2 separate regions of the Homo sapiens genome follow, and region 1 is linked to region 2. Evidence: fine-mapped expression QTL. A gene starts in region 2. The other region holds a variant in brackets. All regions are shown on one strand. Distances are from middle to middle.

Region 1 (5,000 bases), 26 kb after region 2:
ACTTTACATTCCCACCTGTCATGTGTGACAGTTCCAATTTTTTCACATTCTAGACAATTATTATCCTTTAATTTTAGCCATCCTAGTAGGTATAAAGTGGTATCTCACTATGGTTTTGATTTGTATTTCCTGAAGGACTAATACTGTTCAGGATATTTTCAGGTGCTTGTTGGCTATTTGTATATCTTCTTTGGAGAAATGTTCATTCAAGCCCTTTGTCCATTTTGCATTTGGGTTATTTGTCTTATTATTGAGTTGTAAATGTTCTCTATAAATTCTAGATATAAGTACCTTATCAGATATATTATTTGCAGATATTTTTTCCCATTCCATGGTTTGTCATTTCACTTTCTTCATGGTATTCTTTGAGGCACAAAAGTTTTAATTTTGATGTAGTCCAATTTATCTATTTCTTCTTTTGTTGCTTGTGCTTTTGGTGTCATATCTAAGGAGCTCTTGCCTAAGCTGAGGTCACAAAGATTTATTCCTATGTTTTTTTTTTCCCAGTTTTTTATGGTTTTAACCCTTACATTTGGATCTGTGATCCATTTGAGTCAATATTTGTTTATAGCTTAAGGTAGAAATCTAAATTCATGCTTTTTATATATTGATATTTAGTTATCCTAGCACCATTTGTTGAAAAGACTATTTTTTTTCTTCATTAAATTGTCTTGGCACTCTTGTTGAAATCAATTGACTGTAAATGTAAGGGTTTGTTTCTGGATTCTCAATTCTATTCCATTTATAAGTATGTCTATCCTTATGTTAGTACCACACTGTTTTCACTACTGTAGCTTTGTAGTATAAGTTTTGAAATTCAGAAGTGTGAATTCTCCAACTTTGCTCTTATTTTTTTCAAGAGTTTTTTTTTTTTTTGGCAATTCTGGGTCCCTTGTATTTGCAAACAGATTTTAGGACTAGATTGTCAATTTCTGCAAAAAAGGCAACTGGGATTTTGATAGAGATTATGTTGAATCTGCAGATCAGTTTGGGGGGTATTATCATTTTAGCAATAGTAAATCTTTATGAACGTGGGATGTCTTTTCATTTATTTAGATCTTCTTTAGCTTCTTTTGACAATATTGTGTAGTTCCTTCTTTTGTTCAATTTTTTAAAAATATTATATTCTTCTTGAAGCTTTTTTTTTTTTCTTTTGAGACAGAGTCTTGCTCTGTCACCCAGGCAGGAGTGTAATGACATGGTCTCAGCTCACTGCAACCTCCGCCTCCCAGGTTCAAGTGATTCTCCTGCCTCAGCCTACTGAGTAGCTGGGATTACAGGCGCCTGCCACCACACCCAACTAATTTTTTTTTTTTTTTGTATTTTTAGTAGAGACGGGGTTTCACCATGTTGGCCAGACTGGTCTCGAACTCCTGACCTCGTGATCCGCCCACTTCGGACTCCCAAAGTGCTGGGATTACAGGCATGAGCCACTGGGTCCGGCTCTTGATGCTCTTATAAATGGAATTTTCTTAATTTCATTTTCAGATTGTTCATTGCTACTGTGTAGAGACACCACTGATATTTGTATATTGATTTTTTATTTTTTGGAGACGGAGTCTCGCTCTGTCATCTAGGCTGGAGTGCAGTGGTGTGATCTTGGCTCACTGCAACCTCTACCTCCCAGATTCATGAGATTCTTCTGCCTCAGCCTCCCAAATAGCTGGGATTACAGGCGCCCACCGCCATGCCTAGCTAATTGTCTTCTTGCTGTGTTTTCACATGGGGGAAACAGAGTGAGCGAGTTGTCTGGGTTTCTTTTATTAGGGCACTGATTCCATTCGTGAGGGTTCCACCCTCATGATCTAATCATATCTCAAAAGCCCCATCTCCTAATACTATCATTTTGGGAGTTAAGAATTCAACATATGAATTTTTGTTTGTTTGTTTTGAGATGGAGTCTTGCTCTGTCGGACAGGCTGGAGTGCAGTGGTGCAAACTCGGCTCACTGTAAGCTCTGCCTCACGGGTTCCAACGATTCTCCTGCCTCAGGCTCCTGAGTAGCTGGGATTACAGGCCTGGGCCACCGTGCCTGGCTACTTTTTTTTGTTTTTTTTTTTTGAGATGGAGTCT[C/T]GCTCTGTCGCCCAGGCTGGAGTCCAGTGGCACAATCTCGGCTCACTGCAACCTCTGCCTCCCAGGTTCAAGCAATTCTCTGCCTCAGCCCCCGAGTAGCTGGGAATACAGGCGCCTGCCACCACCCCCAGCTATTTTTTTTTTTTTTTTTGTATTTTTAGCAGAGATGGGGTTTCACCATCTTGGCCAGGCTGGGTCTTGAATTCCTGACCTCGTGATCCACCCACCTTGTCCTCCCGAAGTGCCGGGATTACAGGCCTGAGCCACTGCACCCGGCCTGTATATAAATCTTGTATTCTGCTCTGCAGAAAGTTTTTACTTCACTGAGGAGCAGAAGAGACTTTGGAGGTGTTTCTAACAGAGCCATAAAAGGTTTCTATTATATACCATCTGGTCAAGTAGATTAGTGACAAGCTACCATTTGTCCCAGCATCTACCATGTTATTTATTATACTTAAAGCCTCCCGTTTCTCTTACGACAAAAAGCAGGCCAGCATCCTTAACATGACATCTCAGGCCCTGGTTGATTGAGCTATTGTCTGTCTACTCTACAGCCCCATCCCTCATCGTTCTTTCCCTAGCCTTGTGTCCTCCAGCCACACTGGCAATTACTACTTCCTCTAAGTCACCGTGCTCCTTCCTGCTTTATAAGGACAAACAAGATCATGGATGTAAAGTGCTTGGGACAGTTTATCCACTCCCTGTATTGTGCCTCAGTCATGTCTTTATAGTCTTTATAGTCTTCAGTTTTATAGTCTTTATAGTCTTCAGTTTTACTGTCCCTCTTGCCTAATTACTGCCCTGTTTCACACCCAGCACTAAAAAAGGTAGTTTTCTTCCTATAAGGTGGAATAGTATTTTTTCAATGTTTACAAATGTTTCTTTCCCCTGCTAATAATGTCTATTATTCACATCTGTGTCATCAGCACCGGGAGTAGCCTCTGGCACATGACTGAGGCACAATACAGGGAGTGGATAAACTGTGCCGAGCACTTTACATCCATGATCTTGCTTGTCCTTATGATACCCTTTACAAAAGCTTAATGAGGTAAATTGGCCCAAGGTCACATAGCTATTAAGTGGCAGTCATGGTTTTAGTAAGAGCAGTTGGATAGTTTTGGAGTTTAAAATATCCTCTCCGAGAGAGAAGTGCTCATTTCTTGATTTGTTTTCCAGTGGAGACTTTTCAGAAACTGCAGAAGGCAAAGGAGATTCTGACCAATGAAGAGAGTCGAGCCCGCTATGACCACTGGCGAAGGAGCCAGATGTCGATGCCATTCCAGCAGTGGGAAGCTTTGAATGACTCAGTGAAGACGGTGGGTTTCTCGCTGGGTGCGACGTGAATTTGTGAAGCTCAGGATGCCCATGGATTAGACTCATGTAGTAGCTTAAAGAGTCATTAGGCGATAGGAGGGAGAAAACCAAGAAGTTAGCAGAGTCTGGATATAATTCAGTGTCCGTAAATCCCATGAAGAGAAGCTCATCAGAATAAAGGCAATGAATTTGTGCCAGAAGAGCCTGTGACTACATTTCTTTCAATCTCTTTGGCTGTTTGTTTCAGTATACACACTCCCTGTTATTGCTTACTATTTTATGAGCTCTAATAAATGTACTTCTCAAGTTGCTCATGAATTGCTGAGTTTTAACCATTGTAAATTCACATTCTCCATCTTTTTAGTTTATGTCAGCTTGCTCTCTTTTCAAGGCTTAGAATTTTCATTAAAAAGGCAGGATCTGATTAGTCAGAGAAAGCCATGAATTATTCCTATTAAACATTCTGGTGAAAGAATTGTTAGACTTTAAAAACATTGTGTTATCTTTCTTCATGTCATTAAAAGGCATAAATATCAAAATATTCACTATAATTACTGTCATATATTTATTTTGTTCAACATTGACCTTTATATATTATAGACAAAATGTAATTTTAAAGATTTAGGCATGATTTATTACCTAGATTCTCTCCATTGGAACACTTTTCTATGACATGGGACTTATAATACAGAAATTACCTCATAGGTAAGTTTTCAGGGACAGTTGTTAGAATTAGTGTATAAAATGATTCACATCTCTTAAATTATAGCCCTTCAGGGTTACATTTAGATTTCCTTCTTCATAGTTTTTATTTTAGAAGACTTGAGCAAATTGTTGATAAAAGACCTCGGCCTCCCAAAGTGCTGGGATTGCAGGCATGAGCCATCGCACCTGGCTAGATTGTTAAATCTCATAAATTCCCTTTCCTTCACACCATCAACCCTGTGTTTCTGCTTTTTGTTTAAATAGTATAATCCCTCTGGAACGGAAAAGCATTGTTTGGGAACATTATTAGTCCCTATACCCACAAGGCAGGACAAATCACGGTGTACTTTTGTAGCATCACACACAGGATCATATCTTGGGAATTTCCTTTGGGAGAATTCCTCAAACGAGCCACAGCCTCAGGGGTGCCACATTTTTTTAAATTAAAAACTTCAAAAAATTTTCAATAGCTTTTGGGGTACAAGTGTTGATATGGTTTGGATTTGTGTCCTGCCCAAATCTCATGTTGAATTGGATGAGGGTCCTGATGGGAGGTGATTGGATCATGGGGGCAGATTTCCCCCTTGCTTTTCTCATGATAGTGAGTTCTCATGAGATCTGATGGTTTAAAAGTATGTGGCAGTTCTACCTTCTCTCTCTTTCCTGCCACCATGAGAAGAAGGCCCTTTCTTCCCCTTCACCTTCCGCCATGATTGTAAGTTTCCTGAGGCCTCCCAGTCATGCTTTCTGTTAAGCCTGAGGAACTGTGAGTCAATTAAACCTCTTTTCGTCATAAATTACTGAGTCTCAGGTAGTTCTTTACAGCAGTGTGAAATGGACTAATACAAGTGGTTTTTAGACACATGGATGAATTGTATGGTGGTGAAGTCTGAAATTTTAGCGCACCC
Region 2 (5,512 bases):
CTTCTGGGTAGGCTTCAGGGAGCTTTTACTTATGGCAGAAGGTGAAGTGGGAGTAGACATGTTACATGGTGAGAACAGGAGTAAGAGAGCCAGGGGGAAGATACCACACACTTTAAAAACTTTTAAGCCGGGTACAGTGGCTCACCCCTCTAATCCCAGCACTTTGGGAGGCCACGGCGGGTGGATCACCTGAAGTCTGGAATTTGAAACCAGCCTGACCAACATGGAGAAACCCCATCTCTACTAAAAATTCAAAATTAGTCGGGCATGGTGGCACATGCCTGTAATCCCAGCTACTCAGGAGGCTGAGGCAGGAGAATCACTTGAACCCAGGTGGAGGTTGCGGTGAGCCAAGATCACACCATTGCACTCCAGCCTGGGCAACAAGAGTGAAACTCTGTCTCAAAAAAAAAATTATATTATTAATATAAAAATAAGGACAGAGTCTCACTATGTTGCGCAGGCTGGTTTTGAACTCCTGGGCTCAAACAATCCTCCTGCCTTGGTCTCTCAAAGTGCTGGGATTACAGGCATAAGCCACTGCAACTGGCCAATACCACACTTTTTTGTTTGTTTGTGTTAGACAAGGTCGTGCTCTGTCACCCAGGCTGGAGTGCAGTGGTGTGATCTCAGCTCATTGCAGCCTCCACCTCCTGGGTTCAAGCAATTCTCGTGCCTCAGCCTCCCAAGTAGCTGAAATTACAGGCATGTGCCACCACACCCAGCTAACTTTTTTGTATTTTCAGTAGAGATGAAGTTTTGCCATGTTGGCCAGGCTGGTTTCGAACTCCTGGCCTCAAGTGATCTGCCTGCCTCGGCCTCCCAAAGTTCTGGGATTACAGGTGTGAGCCACCATGCCCAGCCCTAACATTCCATTTGTTTAGTCATCCGTTGATGGACACTTGCATTGCCTCCACTTTTTGGCTATTATGACTAATGCCTTGATGAACATGAGTATATAAATATCTTTTCAAGTTCCTGCTTTCAATTCTTTTGTGTATTTACCCAGAAGTGGAATTGTGGGGTCACATGGTAGTTCTATGTTTAATTTTTTGAGGAACCACCATACTGCTTTCCACCATGGCAACTTCACATCATTAAAAGGCCATTTATCAGTGATTTAGATCAAGATATTGTGATCTAATTTTTTTTTTTTTTTTTGAGATGGACCCTGGCTCTGTCACCCAGGCTGGAGTCCAGTGGCACGATCTCGGCTCGCTGCAACCTCCGCCTCCCAGATTCAAGCAATTCTCCTGCCTCAGCATCCTGAGTAGCTGGGACTACAGGTGCGTGCCACCATGCTTGGCTAATTTTTGTATTTTTAGTAGAGACAGGATTTCATCACATTGGTCAGGCTGGTCTCGAACCCCCGACCTCGTGATCCGCCCGCCTCGGTCTCCCAGTGCTGGGATTATGGCATGAGCCACCGTGCCTGGCCTTAAAATTCTATATAGAACTTTTAGCAAGACAGCATGTACAATGAAGGATTAGTAAAAAATGGTGTTTCAGTGCTTTTTCTTGCTTCTCTTCAGAAATAAACCTTTAAAAAGATGTATATAGGTGGGCTAAAAGAAAAACTATTTTTTCCCCTCAGGTGGGGGAATTTAAAGTGTTAAGGGCCAGGCATGTTGGCTCACATCTGTAATCGCAGCACTTTGGGAGGCCAAAGTGGGAGGATCACTTGAGTCCAGGGGTTTAAGACCAATCTGGGCAATATGGCGAGACCCTGTCTCTCTGAAAAATGAAACAAAAAAAGTGTTAAGGCAGTCAAAGTGTTGTGTCCCTGACCACTCACCTTGTTCTCTAAATCCCAGACCTGAACTGTGTTTCTTAGGGCCAAAATGAACTGAAACATAAATTGCCTGGACCTACCTCAGACTAGAGACACTCCTGAGTCTGGAGAACCAACCCAGGAGAAATAGCACAGCCATCTGACCCGAGTTATCATACAGTTCTTCTCATTGTCCTATTTTATTTTCTCTAAAGCACAAATCACTATTTTATTTTTTTATTTTTTGAGATGGAGTCTTGCTCTGTAGCGCAGTCTGGAGTGCAGTGGCACCATCTCGGCTCACTACAGCCTCTGCCTCCTGGGTCCAAGTGATTCTTCTGCCTCAGCCTCCCAAGTAGCTGGACTACAGGTGTGGGCCACCATGCCTGGCTTACAAATCACTATTTTAAATGATCGTGTTTTTTTTTTTTTTTTTTTTTTTTGCATGTTTTTCAGCTGTCTTCCTCCATCAGAGCGTAAGCTCCATAAAAATCAAGACTGTGTTATTGGCTGGGCGCTGTGGATCATGCCTGTAATCCCAGCACGTTGGGAGGCCGAAGCAGGCAGATCGCTTTGAGCTCACGAGTTCGAGACCAGGCTGGGCAACATGGCAAAACCCCCTCCTCTTAAAACATAACAAAACAAAAACCAAAAATTAGCTGGACATGGTGCTATGTGCCTGTGGTCCCAGCTACTAGGGAGGCTGAGGTGGGAGGATCGCTTGAGCTGGGGAGACAGAGGTTGCAGTGAGCTGAGACTGCACCACTGCACTCCAGCCTGGGCAACAGAGTGAGACCTTGTCTGAAAATAAACAAATAAAAAATAAAATTAAGTATTTTAAACACTAAGAAAAGCTCCCATTATCCTTATTAACACATCCTAAGATTTTACCACATTGCTTCACATTTTTTTTCTTTTTTTTTTTTAAAGGATAGAGACAAAAATATATAGGAGATGGAGAAGTGGCTAATGTGGCAAGTTTCTGAAAATAGACAGTCTTTATTAACTCATAAGACAAATGGTTCACATGCATCTCTTATATAAACTCAAACTACAGATCCCAGGCAGCACTGCAATAATAGACACGTGGACTGTTCTTTTCTTCTCTGTAAACAGCCAATGAGAGGCAGAGTTTACAAAGGTCTAGGATGACATCTGGTGTATTGACTGTGGCCAGTCTTAAAGCTAGTTTTTGCTATGTGGAACATGCTGCTCTAATTCAGATTTAAAGAGTTTCTTCCTGTTAATTCGAAGCTCACTGTGCCTCTTGTTTCCGAGGGAAGAAGGACTGATTAAGTCATCTAAATGGATGCAATACTGAATTACAGGTCAGAAGATACTGAAGATTACTACACATTACTGGGATGTGATGAACTATCTTCGGTAAGACAGTGGATAATATTTTTATCACAACAGTATTCTTTTTCACAATAGTATTTCAAGTTTTTATTTAAGGTTTTAACTTTGAATTTTTAGTCACATTGCCTACAAACCTAACCTTGTGTTGTTTTAAAGCACTTTTGGCTCAGAGAAAGTTAAGAATTTAAATGTATGTTGGGATTTTACTTGAATAGTGTCCTATGGGAATTTTACGGAAGCTTCTGATTAAATATGTGTATTCTGGCACATGGCCATATGCTGTTTCACAATATAGTATATTAAAAATAAATATTTGAAATTTTATTGTAATTTCTGATGGCAGTGTTTCACAGTATATATAAGCTATACCTTTATTATGGTGACTCATAATTGAGGTGAAATGAAATTTCTTATAAAATTAGGGATTTTAATATATTTTATTAAAATGTGTACTCCTATGTGAGCAGTCAAAATAGAAACAAAGAAGCATCCCTTTATGTTAATATTTCAAATTGTGTGACAGAAATTACTTCTTGAAAGGGTGGCTTCTGAAACAAAACATGTGAAAACTCTGTAGCTGTTCACTGGATCTGTAAGAAAACAAAATTTTTAAAGTTCTCAATAAACAATTATAAAGGTTGTAGAGGTTTTTTAAATTATGGAAAAATCATTTATAATTCTCTCTCCCAAGGATAACAGTATTAATATTTTGGCATATTAATCTCCACTATTCTTTCTATGTATATTCTTTAAAGACCTGTTTGGGAGGATATTATATGTACTTGTTGATTCCTGCTTTTTACCCATTCGTATTATAACAAGGAATTTTCCATGCTATTAAACTTTCCTTGTACACTTTTTAGTGGTTGCAAAATATTTTATTTTGCTGTGTTACCACAGTTGAATTATTCTCTTATTGTTAAATATTTTATTTCCAATTTTTCAATATTTCAAATAATGTTGAGATTAATATAAAATATATTCATTATTAAATTATATATTATTAAATCATGTTATTAGGATATATTTATGTTTTATAATTAATGTATTTTATTTTATTTATTTTTATTAAAATCTAAGTAGTAAAATTAACATTGTAAAGCAAAATGTTTTTATATTTATTGTTGTTTCATAAAGGCAGTAGTTCATTAATAAAATGTGCTTAGTTTTGTTTTAAGAATAGAATGCATTACTGGACACAAAGGATTAAAATCTCTATTTTTGCCATGCTGAGGAAGTTATCTTAGACACGTTGAAATTAAAAAAACTGCCCCGCCCCCAGAATAGCTTATAATGGTCTTTTAGTTGCATATTTCTTCTCAAGAATGTGTTATTCTTGTTTATGTTGGTGGTGATTTGCTTATAGCAATTGAGAAAGCTTATTACCATTTTTACCATGTGTTATTCACAGTTGAAATTATACTATTATCAAACAATTTTTGAAGGAATAATTTAAAATCAAAGGAATATAATTTAACTTGATAAGGCTGACAATTTGGATTTAAAAAAATACATGCTAGCTTATACAGTAAGGGTCATTATATCTCCATAATCTTGTGACCTATTTAGTCAGTCCTTTTTTTTTTTTTTCAATTTTACTTTAAGTTCTGGGATCCCTGTGCAGAATGTGCAGGTTTGTTACATAGATACACATGTGCCAGGGTGGTTTGCTGCACCTATCAACCCATCATCTAGGTTTTAAGCCCCGCATACATTAGGTATTTGTCCTAATGCTGTCCCTCCCCTTCTCCCCCACCCCCCGACAGGCCCCGGTGTGTGATGTTCCCCTGCCTGTGTCCATGTGCTCTCATTGTTCATCTCCCACTTATGAGTGAGAACATGTGGTGTTTGGTTTTCTGTTCCTGTGTTAGTTTGCTGAGAATGATGGTTTCCAGCTTCATCCATGTCCCTGCAAAGGACATGAACTCATTCTTTTTTATGGCTGCATAGTCAGTCTTTTGAAGTTATGCTGTTGTCTTTTCAATCTACATAGAAGGAGGATTCATTTTGGACAGCCTTACAGAAAATAATCTCGTTGTTAATGTGTAATATTCAAAATATGGTTACCAGGTGGAGTCATACTTCCTTGTCTCAACATTCCTTTTACTGGATGTATTTTACTGGTCTGTCAATGGCATATCATATCTAGATAACAATTATTTATTTTTAATGAAATGTTTGTCATAATATTGTCACTTCTTTATATATATGTGTGTGTGTGTGTGTGTGTGTGTGTGTGTCATTTTTTCTCTCTTTTTTTTGTTTTTTTGAGATGGAGTCTCACTCTGTTGCCGGGCTGGAGTGCAGTGGTGCAATCTCAGGTCACTGCAACCTCCGCCTCCCAGGTTCAAGTGATTCTCCTTCCTCAGCTTCCTGAGTAGC

Evidence for each region.
Region 1: its variant is fine-mapped to the expression of DNAJC12 in adrenal gland (GTEx, PIP 0.96).

Annotation. Positions count from the first base shown.
Region 1 is chr10:67,809,913-67,814,912 of GRCh38, reverse strand. DNAJC12 (DnaJ heat shock protein family (Hsp40) member C12) reads left to right here. Exons shown (of 5, transcript NM_021800.3): 3 at 3,250-3,389. Among named protein-coding and RNA genes, the nearest start is that of DNAJC12, 26 kb to the left of the region's middle. The variant C/T (reference allele first, on the strand shown) is at 2,074.
Region 2 is chr10:67,835,576-67,841,087 of GRCh38, reverse strand. DNAJC12 (DnaJ heat shock protein family (Hsp40) member C12) reads left to right here and starts at 2,900. Exons shown (of 5, transcript NM_021800.3): 1 at 2,900-3,154. The coding sequence starts at 3,077.